Regions from separate parts of the Homo sapiens genome. Here region 2 is linked to region 1. Evidence: fine-mapped expression QTL. A gene starts in region 1. The other region holds a variant in brackets. All regions are shown on one strand. Distances are between the middles of the regions.

The links. PIP is the estimated chance that this variant, and not a neighbour inherited with it, causes the effect. A credible set is the group of variants that fine-mapping cannot tell apart.
Region 2: its variant is the best candidate, but not a certain one, in a credible set for the expression of ZNF740 in NK cells (Schmiedel 2018, PIP 0.73).

What each region holds. Positions count from the first base shown.
Region 1 is chr12:53,177,360-53,182,743 of GRCh38, reverse strand. It overlaps ZNF740 (zinc finger protein 740), which reads right to left and starts at 2,022. Exons shown (of 7, transcript NM_001004304.4): 1 at 1,907-2,022; 2 at 752-1,067. The coding sequence starts at 760. CSAD (cysteine sulfinic acid decarboxylase) reads left to right here and starts at 1,819. Exons shown (of 17, transcript NM_001244705.2): 1 at 1,819-2,012; 2 at 3,602-3,642. RefSeq lists silencers at 1,005-1,299, 1,653-1,952, 2,243-2,332 and an enhancer at 1,995-2,553.
Region 2 is chr12:53,145,477-53,150,860 of GRCh38, reverse strand. No RefSeq gene overlaps it. Among named protein-coding and RNA genes, the nearest start is that of ZNF740, 33 kb to the left of the region's middle. The variant C/T (reference allele first, on the strand shown) is at 2,898.

The sequences.
Region 1 (5,384 bases):
ATTTAAATCCCTTACTCCGTAACTATCAAACAACCTGCAGTACTCGGAACCTCATCACATTTTCCCATGACTCTAAGCTCCTGCCCATGCTGTTCCTTTTGTCCAAACACCCTTCTCGCTTGTTTAGCAAAATCCTATGCATCTTTCAACCTCCATCTTCTTTTTCTATCCAAGCAGAAGTACTGTTCTCTCCTATGTACATACCCCTATTATTGCACATTCCTCAATCAACAGATTCAGAGTCTCTACTACTAGCCAGCCACTATACAAGGCATTGTGAATATAAAAATAAATGGCTTTCCATCCCTCTCCCGACCCCAACTAGCCTGGAAGCTCACTGGGGACAAGGACAATCGTATTCATCTTTGTATTCCCAGCACAATGCCTTGCATGCAACAGGAACTCAATAAATTCCTGTTGGAAAAAAACAAAAGAAGCATTCACCGTACTATTCACTCCCTTACACCCCTCAGCACTTAATGTACCAAATGTAAACTGAGTACACGTTGCTTTGCAAATGTCCCATCAGTGCCTGTGATGCAGTATAGCCTACCTCCTTCATTTGACTGGAAGCTCCCTGAAGGCAGGGGCTGTGGCCTGTCTCCTTTCCTTCCTCTAGATCTCCCCCTGGTGCTTAATACAGAGCTTGGATCACTGGGGTTGGTCAATATGTTGACTAAGGCAGCATTCAAGAGTGAAACTGCAAACAGGCTTCCCAGTTATCTTGGAGGAGGACTCTAGAGCTTTTTACCTGAGCCATGCTGATTTCTCACTTAAGGCAACCCAAAAGTTCAGGAGTTCCTAGGTCCACCTTTCCTTGAGACACTGTCGTTTTGAAGAACTGTCACCAAATCACGGTAGCGACTCCTTCGTGTCCCATCAGTCCTGTTGCCATATTGAACTTTGTCTTCAAATAGAACTTAGTGTCCTCCGAAGAAAAGATAGGTGTTCCAAGAATCCCTGGACTCTGCCTGGCTCCTGCCTATTGTCTGAAGAAAAAGAGAGTCTACCAGTCTTGGTTTTCCAGTTGAATTCTCTTGATGAAGCTCACGATCTGTTTCAGAAACCTGAAACCAGAAAGGAAGAGGGGGGCTGCTAAATGCAACATCTTCAGGCCATTACAACGTGCGATATGAATTTTTTTTTTGCTGGGCGCTCTCTGTGAAGCTCAGAACGAGGACATGAGTCAAGAAGAGTTTTCTTTCTAGGTCAATAGGAGGAACTGGTCTCCTGGGCAAGGAGTGGAAGCCAACAGGAGCAAAAGTAATTGGGGCCTCCTATGGAGGAACTCTGCCAAAAGGAAAGTTGCTTGGATTTGCCATCTCAGGAATGGAAGAAGGGGGCGGAGACCCTTTGGGGCTTTTGTGCCCAGTGGGCCGGCCCGAAAAGCTCGCACTTTACAGAGGCGGCAAGACTAGGGTGGAGGAAAGCTCAAGGGCCATCGCTGGGTGCTTCGGTGGCGGGCAGAAACGGGACTGGCAGTGCCCACACGTGTGCGTTCTCCCCGTCCGCCCGAAGGTAGGGAAACTTGCTGCGGAGGTGGAGGACAGGCAGGCGAAGCCCGGCGCGGCGTGTCGCCCGCCTCGCTCCGGCCAGCCAGCCTCTGCACCCGCTGCACCAACCGGGAGCAGAGCCGGAGAGTGCCGAGAAGCGCGCGAGATGCGTGCTCGCGCCCGCGTCCCCTCCGAGAGCCCTCTCCCGGGCCGGGGACGCGGCGGGACGCGCGGGCAGGGGGCGGTGTGCGCGCACGGCCTTTCCCCTCCCTCCCCCGGAGATCCCCCTCCCTTCGCCACGCGCCCCTCCTCCCCTCCCCTCCCCCTTCCCGCGCGGCACCCCACGGCTTGCGAGCTACTGAAGCGCTGCCGTCTGTACGGACGACGCTGCGGTCTTTGGGGCTTGCTCCTACCTGCCAGGCGCGGCCTCCCGCTGGCTCCCTGGCCGCGCGGCGCCTCCTCCAGGCCCCAGCACACCCTGCCAACCCCACCGCCGCGGCTGCCCCCACCGGGACCGAGGCAAGTTTACAAACACCAACCCCGGCCCGTTTCCCCGGAAGCACTTCCCCCTCCCCCTCGTCCTCTCCGCCGAGCGGCTGCATCCACTTCCGGGCTCGGCAGCTAGACTAGCGGGGGCAGCCTCAGAGCGGGTGAGCTTGGGGACGCACGGAGAGGTGCAGCTGGGTGAGTGGGCGGCGCCGTGCGCCGAGGGCATGGAGGAGGGAGCGCTGAGGCCGGCGCGTGCGCCGTGGCCGGGGCGCGCCCCGGCCGCCATCGAGACTGAGGGCAGGACCCTCGGCCCTTCGATGATTGTACGCTGGGTGCTCGATGGGAGGAGGGTTTGCTGGGTGAGCTGGTTCAGACTCCTTGAAAAATCATCGTCACTCTTTCTTCCTCGCGGACGTCCTGCCCATCGCTCTGAGCCGGCGCCCCAAGTAGAGCCAGAGTAGTTCGTACCCAGCCTTTTCACGTAACTCGGCCGAGGTGGTTCTTCTCCGAATTTTTTCCGTCAGGCCCAGATTAGCAGATTTTGGGGTCAGCTGGGAGAGGCGTTAACTTTTCTTCGCACACTCTTGCTTTGTGCGCTCAACCACAGTCTGAATTCTCGCAGAGGCGTTCCTTGAGTAGCCCTTGGCCACACTGCTCACCTCCCTGCAGAAGTCAAAGCCCCAGCCCTCCTCTGCGAATCCCGAGGCCAGCCTGGTTGGTTACCTTCTCCCCTTCGCCCTTTACTCCAGGCCGTCCAGCATCAAACACTAGCCTCCACACGTGGAAAAGACCCTGACTCCCACAGTAGACTAGTCTTATGGGAGTCCTGGCTCTTGGGCCAGGCTGCATTAGGAAAATGGAAACCAGACTGTCTTCAAATTCTTCTGCCTAGCCTTAGCCATTAGAGAGAGGTCCTGCTAAAGATGGACTGCAAATGCGCTTGATGGAAGGAGATGTCAATTCCACTGAAGTCCTCATTTCTGCTGTAGGTGATATTATGTCGTGACTTTAGGAGAAGTAATGGTGATACCAAAAGAAAAAAAAAACTGTATGATGAAAAAAAGACAAGGATTCTCAACTTTTTTTTTTTTGTAGACAGATTTCATTTCCCTGAGCCACTCCATGATTTGGGCCATTGAAAGTACGTTTTTTGTGTTTTAGGATCATTCTAAAATAGAGACAAAATGGAGAAAGAGAGAGATAAAGAAACATCACCAGGAATAAGTCTTTTAAATCTTTTTTGAAAATTAGCTCCTACTTATTTTACAAATCGACACAACGCAAAAGTATAAAAGACACAAAATGGTTATTCTCCCCCTCTACTTATCCCATGCTCCTGAAGGGAATCATTCTTACCAGTTTGGTATATATGCTTTTAGGCTTTTTTCTGTGTTCATACAAAAATCTTTTCAACCAGTATTTATTGAGCACCTGTAATGCGCCATACAGTGTATTTTAGACATCTGAGTCAGCTAACATTTAAAAAACTGTTGCACAGTATTCCAGTTTATGTGTGTGCCTTGTCCCATCTTGATGAACATTTAGGTTTCAGATTTTTTTGCTTTATAAACAATACAATAATGAACATCCTTAAATAGTTATCTTTTTGCTCCGGGCAGGGTGGCTCACACCTGTAATCCCAGCACGTTGGGAAGCCGAGGTGGGCGGATCATCTGAGGTCGGGAGTTCCAGACCAGCCTGACCAACATGGAGAAACCGCGTCTCTTCTAAAAATACAAAATTAGCCGGGCGTGGTGGCACATGCCTGTAATCCCAGCTACTCGAGAGGCTGAGTCAGGAGAATCACTTGAACCCGGGAGGCGGGAGTTGTGGTGAGGCGAGAGTCGTGCCTTTCCTGGGCAATAAGAGTGAAACTCTGTCTCAAAAAAGAAAAAAAAGTTACCTTTTGCATTTATAAGGATTTATAGATAGGATATGTGCTTTTATTTAAATTTATTTTTATTTTTATTTTTTTTTGAGATGGAGTCTCACTCTGTCACCCAGGCTAGAGTGCAATGGCACAATCTTGGCTCACTGCAACCTCCACCTCCCAGGTTCAAGCAATTCTCCTGGCTTAGCCTCCTGAGTAGCTGGCGCCTGCTGCCAGCCCGGCTAATTTTTTTGTATTTTTTAGTAGAGATGGAGTTTCACCATGTTGGTCAGGCTGGTCTTGAACTCCTGACCTCAGGTCATCTACCCACCTTGGCCTCCCAAAGTGCTGGGATTCCAGGTGTGAGCCACCACACCCGGCCCTATTTTCATTCTGTTTAAAGATAGGGTCTTGGTCTGTCGCCCAGGCTGGAGTGCAATGGTGCAGTCAGGGCACACTGCAGCCTCAACCTCCTGGGCTCAAGGAATCCTCCCATCTTAGCCTCCCAAGTAGTTGGGACTACAGATGTGGGCAACTGTGCCTGGATAATTTTGTAGTTTTTTTTTTGTTTTTTTGTTTTTTGTAGAGACAGGGTTTTGCCATGTTGCCCAGGCTGGTCTCGAATTCCTAGGCTCAAGCTATCCATTGGCCTCGGCCTCCTAGAGTGCTAGGATTACAGGATTGAGCCACCATGCCTGGCCGGATATGTAAATTTTAATAGATTCTGTGAAAATGAATTGTAAAAGTTTGTAACAACTCCCATGTTTACTCAGAACCATGTGTGAATGTTCCCTATTCCTACAACTTTGGCAATGTTTAGTGTATGCTATGAATTTTTTATACAGTTACTAGTTTAATGGGTGAAAAATAGTATTTGTTTTAATTTTCATGTCATTAATAGTGAAGTTAATATTCTCTTATTGCCTTTTTTTTTTTTAAGAGATGGGTCTCTGGACAGGCACGGTGGCTCACGCCTGTAATCCCAGCACTCTGGGAGACCGAGGTGGGCGGATCACCTGAGGCCAGGAGTTTGAGACCAGCTGGGCCAACATGGAGAAACCCCATCTCTACTAAAAATACAAAAAAATTAGCTGGGCTTGGTGGCACGTGCCTGTAATCCCAGTTACCAGGTGGCTGAGGCAGGAGAATCACTTGAACCCGGGAGGCGGGGGTTGCAGTGAGCCCATATTGTGCCATTGCACTCCAGCCTGGGCAACAAGAGCGAAACTCTGTCTCAAAAAATAAATAAATAAATAAATAAATAAATAGATGGGTCTCCACGCTTTGTTGCCTTAGGCTGGTTTCCAACTCGTGAGCTCAAGTGATCCTCCCACTTCAGCCTTCCAAATAGGTGGGACTATTTTATTGCTCTTTGACCATTTTAATTGTTTTTGTAAACTGTCTGTTCATATCCTTTGCCCATTAAAAAAAGGTAGATCATTTGTATATTTCTTATTGATGGTAGAAATCCTGTCTGTGTTATGGATAATAACTATTCTTTGTCGTCTGCATTTAAAATATTTTCTCTTTTT
Region 2 (5,384 bases), 32 kb after region 1:
TTTATTGAGACAGAGTCTCGCTCTGTCACCAAGGCGGGAGTGCAGTGGTGCAGTCTCGGCTCACTGTAACCTCTGACTCCCGGGCTCAAGTGATTCTCCTGCTTCAGCTTCCTGAGTAGCTGGGACTACAGGCATATGACACCACGCCCGGCTAATTTTTTTTTTTTTTTAATTTTTAGTAGACATGGGGTTTCACCATATTGGCCAGGCTGGTCTCGAACTCTTGATCTCAAGTCATCCACCCACCTTAGCCTCCCAAAGTGCTGGGATTACAGGTGTGAGCCACTGCACCTGGCCCCTAGCCAGTTTTTATCATATTGGTTGCACAATGTTGATTTTCTAACTCCAGCATTCCCTCCATTTTTGTCATTTGGCATTAGACTATAAAAAAGAGCCCTCCCCACTCCTTTTTCATTCATGTGTATTATCAATATGGACTTTGGTTTTATTCAATAGATTATAATTAATTTCAGTTCTTATTTTAATGCTCAAATTATTCCAGTTTTGACCGGAGGGAGCCCCTTTAATTTGGCTTCCATGTCCTTTAAAAAATTTGTGTGTGTGTGTGTGTGTGTGTGTGTGTGTGAAGACAGGATCTCACTATGTTGCCCAGGCCAGTCTCCAACTCCTGGCCTTAAGTGATCCTCCCACCTTGGCCTCCTGAAGTGCTGCGACTACAGACATGAGTCACCCGGCACTTCCATGTCTTTTGACATTACTTTTTTTCTTTTTTTTTTTGAGACACAGTCTGGCTCTGTCACCTAGGCTGAAGTGCAGTGGCGCGATCTTGGCTCACTGCAACCTCTGCCTTCTGGGTTCAAGCAGTTCTCCTGCCTCAGCCTCCTGAGTAGCTGGGATTACAGGTACCCGCCACCACGCCCGGCTAATTTGTTTGTTTGCTTGTTTTTTTTTTTTTTTTTTTTTGCGACGGAGTCTCGCTCTGTCACCCAGGCTGGAGTGCAGTGGTGCGATCTCGGCTCATTGCAAGCTCCGCCTCCTGAGTTTACACCATTCTCCTGCCTCAGCCTCCTGAGTGGCTGGGACTACAGGCGCCCACCACCACACCTGGCTAATTTTTTGTTTTCATATTTTAGTAGAGACGGGGTTTCACCGTGTTAGCCAGGATGGTCTCGATCTCCTGACCTCGTGATCCGCCCATCTCGGCCTCCCAAAGTGCTGGGATTACAGGCGTGAGACACCGCGCCCAGCCAATTTTTGTATTTTTAGTAGAGATGGGGTTTCGCCATGTTGGCCAGGCTGGTCTCGAACTCCTGACCTCAAGTGATCCAACCACCTTGGCCTCCCAAAGTGCAGGCGTTACAGGCGTGAGCCACGGCACCCAGCCAACATTACTTTTTTTTTTTTTTTTTTTTCCCAGCACTGCCTTATTTCCTGGCACAACAAAAATGTTTCAGGCTAATCTTTCTCCTTGTCTGCCCCAGTCTTGAGATCAACCAGGTCTTCAGAAAGCTCTGATTCCTTTTAGCAGAGAACAGTATTTAGAAAACCCAATCTAGGCACCAGATGTGTTCATTGGTACTGAGTATGTTCAGTACTTTAAAAATTTAAACTAACATCCTTTTGGATCTCCCAACCCATCTTAGCTATGCTAAGGGAAATGATGGGCCAGAGTCTAAAAAGGAGTAAGTGATGTTCCCCTGGGACTCGAAGAGGAGCAGCAGGGAGAGTGGCTGATAACAGAGGGGGAGGGGAGGGGGATGAGCCACAGAGTTGTGGTGCCTGATTGACCCACCCTCCTTTCTTTTTTTTTTTTTGAGATGGAGTCTCGCTCTGTCGCTGAGGCTGGAATGCAGTGGCGCGATCTCGGCTCACTACAACTTCCGCCTCCTGGGTTCAGGCGATTCTCTTGCCTCAGCCTCCCGAGTAGCTGGGACTACAGGCAGGTGCCACCCTGCCCGGCTAACTTTTTGCATTTTTAGTAGAAACGGGGTTTCACCGTGTTAGCCCAATCTGACCAATTGGGACCAACTGATGGTCCCAATCTCCTGACCTCTTGATCTGCCCGCCTCGGCCTCCCAAAGTGCTGGGATTACAGGCATGAGCCACTGCACCCAGCCGACCCACCCTCCTTTCTAGAGTTTTTAAATGTTAAGTGGAGGAACTTGGAGGTTGGGTTTTTGTTTGTTTGTTTGTTTTTTGAGACCGAGTTTCGCTCTTGTTGCCCAGGCTGGAGTGCAGTGGCCTAGGCTCACAGCAACCTCCAGCTCCCGGGTTCAAGTGATTCTCCTGCCTCAGCCTTCCTGAGTAGCTGGGATTACAGGCATGTGCCACCATGCCCGGCTAATTTTGTATTTTTAGTAGAGACAGGGTTTCTCCATGTTGGTCAGGCTGGTCTGGAACTCCCGACCTCAGATGATCCGCCCGCCTCGGCCTCCCAAAGTGCTGAGATTTCAGGTGTGAGCCACCACACCCGGCTGGAGGTTGGGTTTTGTATAAAGATGGCAGTGTTTTCACAACCCTTGATTTAGCATTAGCATTACAAGTTTCATAGAATTATGGCCCATGGAGGCTGAGGCAGGAGAATTGCTTGAACCCGGGAGACGGAGGTTGCGGTGAGGTGAGACAGCACCATTGCACTCCAGCCTGGGCGAAAGGCAAGACTCTGTCTCAAAGAAAAATAATAAAAAAAAAAAAAAATAAAGATAATGGCTATTCAGGACTGTTTCTTCTTAGGTAAACTTTGGTAGTTTTTGTCTGTTAAGAAATTTGTTTTGGCAGCCGGGCATGGTGGCTCACGCCTGTAATCCCAGAACTTTGGGAGGCTGAGGTGGGTGGATTGCTTTGAGCTCAGGAGTTTGAGACCAGCCTGGGCAACATGGTAAAACGTCATCTCTACCAAAAAAAAAAATACACACACACACACACACACACACACA[C/T]ACACATATACGTGTATATATACGCGTGTATATACGCGTGTATATAAGCGTGTATATACACGTATATATATACGTATATGTGTATAATACGTCTATATACGTATATATACATACACATATATACATACACACGTATACATGCATATATACACACATATATACATACATATATACATGTATACGTGTATGTATACATATATACGTATATATACATATATACGTGTATATATACATATATACATATACACATATGTGTGTGTATATACATATGCATATATGTGTGTATATATACATATACATATATGTGTGTATATACGTATACATACATGTGTATATATATACATGTACATACATGTGTATATATGTATACATGTACATATGTGTATTTATGTACACATATGTACATATGTGTATTTATGTACACACATGTACATATGTGTATATATGTATACGCATGTACATATATGTGTATATATGTATACACATGTACATATATGTGTATTTATGTATACGCATGTACATATATGTGTATTTATGTACACGCATGTACATATATGTGTATTTATGTATACACATGTACATATATGTATTTATGCATACACATGTACATATGTGCACATACGTATACATACATGCACATATATGTGTATATATGTATACATATATGTATGTATATGTGCATATACGTATACATATGTGCACATATACATGTGTATACACATATGTATGTATATGTATATATACACATATATGTGTGTGTATATGTATATATACACATATATATGTGTGTAGGTGTGTATATGTATATATACACATATGTGTGTGTATGTGTGTGTGTATATATATATATGCACACACCCCTATATATATGTGTATGTATATATAACTAGCCAGGCTTTGGTGGCTTATGCCTGTAATCCCAGCACATGGGAGGCTGAGGCTGGAGAATTACTTGAGCCCAGGAAACAGAGGTTGCAGTGAGCTGAGATCGTGCCACTGCACTCCAGCCTAGGTGACAGAGTGAGATCCTGTTTCAAAAAAAGAAAGAAAGAAATTTGTCTTGGGGACACTGCCTATGAGGTAGCCCTGTTCCACAAGAAGCAGTTAAAAAAAAACAGTCTCTTTTCTTTCCTTTTTTTTTTGAGATGGGGTCTCACTCTATCTCCCAGGCTGGTCTCAAACTCCTGGGCTCAGGCAATTCTTCCATCTCAGCTCCCTGAGTAACTGAGACTACAGGAGCATGCTTCAAGCCTGGCTATTTTTTTTTTCTTGTAGAAATGGGGTCTTACTTTGTTGCCCACACTGGTCTCAAACTTCTGGCTTTAAGCGATCCTCCCGCTTCACTCTCCCAAGAGCTGAGATTACAGGCATGAGCCACCAAACCTGTCCAGAAATTTGTCTATTTCATCTACGTTTCAGCACTTATTGACATAAACTTATTTTCTTATTATCCTTTCAGTTCTGTAGAACCTATATTGTCACTTTTTTCATTTCTGATATTAATTATTTGTGTTTTCTCCCTTTTTTTTCTTCCTGTTCATTTTAGTGAGAGGTTTATTGCTGTGATGGTTGATTTTTTTTTTTGGTAGGGATGATGTGTTCTTTTTTTGTTGTTGTTTTTTGAGATGGAGTCTTGCTCTGTTGCCCAGGCTGGAGTGCAGTGGCATGATCTCGACTCACTGCAACCTCCACCTCCTGGGTTCAAGCAATTCCCCAGCCTCTGCCTCCCAAGTGGCTGGGACTACAGGTGCATGCCACCACTCCTGGCTAATTTTTGTATTTTGTTTTAGTAGAGACGGGGTTTCACTGTATTGGCCAGGTTGGTCTGGAACTTCTGATTTCAAGTGATCTGCCCACCCCAGTCCCCCAAAGTGCTGGGATTACAGGCGTGAGCCACCTCGCCTGGCCTGGGATGGTGTTTTGCTATGTTGGCCAGGCTGGGCTCAAATGAACCTCCTGCCTCAGCTTCCCAAAGTGCTGGGATTAGGGACATGAGCCCTAATGTCTGGCCTGTGACGGTTGATGTTGTATGTCAACTGGCCTAGGTTAGAGAGCTGGTAGACATTATTTCTGGGTGTGTCTGTGAGGCTGTCTCTAGAAGAGCTTGCATTTGAATTGCTGTACTGAGGAAAGAAGATCTGTCCTCATCAATGTGCAGGCATCATCCAATCACTGAGGGCTCAATAGAACAAAAAGGTGAGGAAAGGGCACATTCTCTGTCTTCTTGAGCTGGGACATCAATCTTATGCCCTTGACACTCACCTGAGGACACTGGAGGTCCTGGTTCTCAGGCCTTTGGACTCTGGGATGACACCATTTCCTGCCCTGGTTCTCAGGCCTTTGGCCTCAGACTGGGAGCTCTGCCACTGGCTGCCCTAGTTCTCATGCCCTTGGACTCTGATTGAGTAACACCCCTAGCTTTCCTGATTCTCCAGCTTACAGATGGCATATCATGGGAATTCTTGACCTCCATAATTGTGCAAGCCA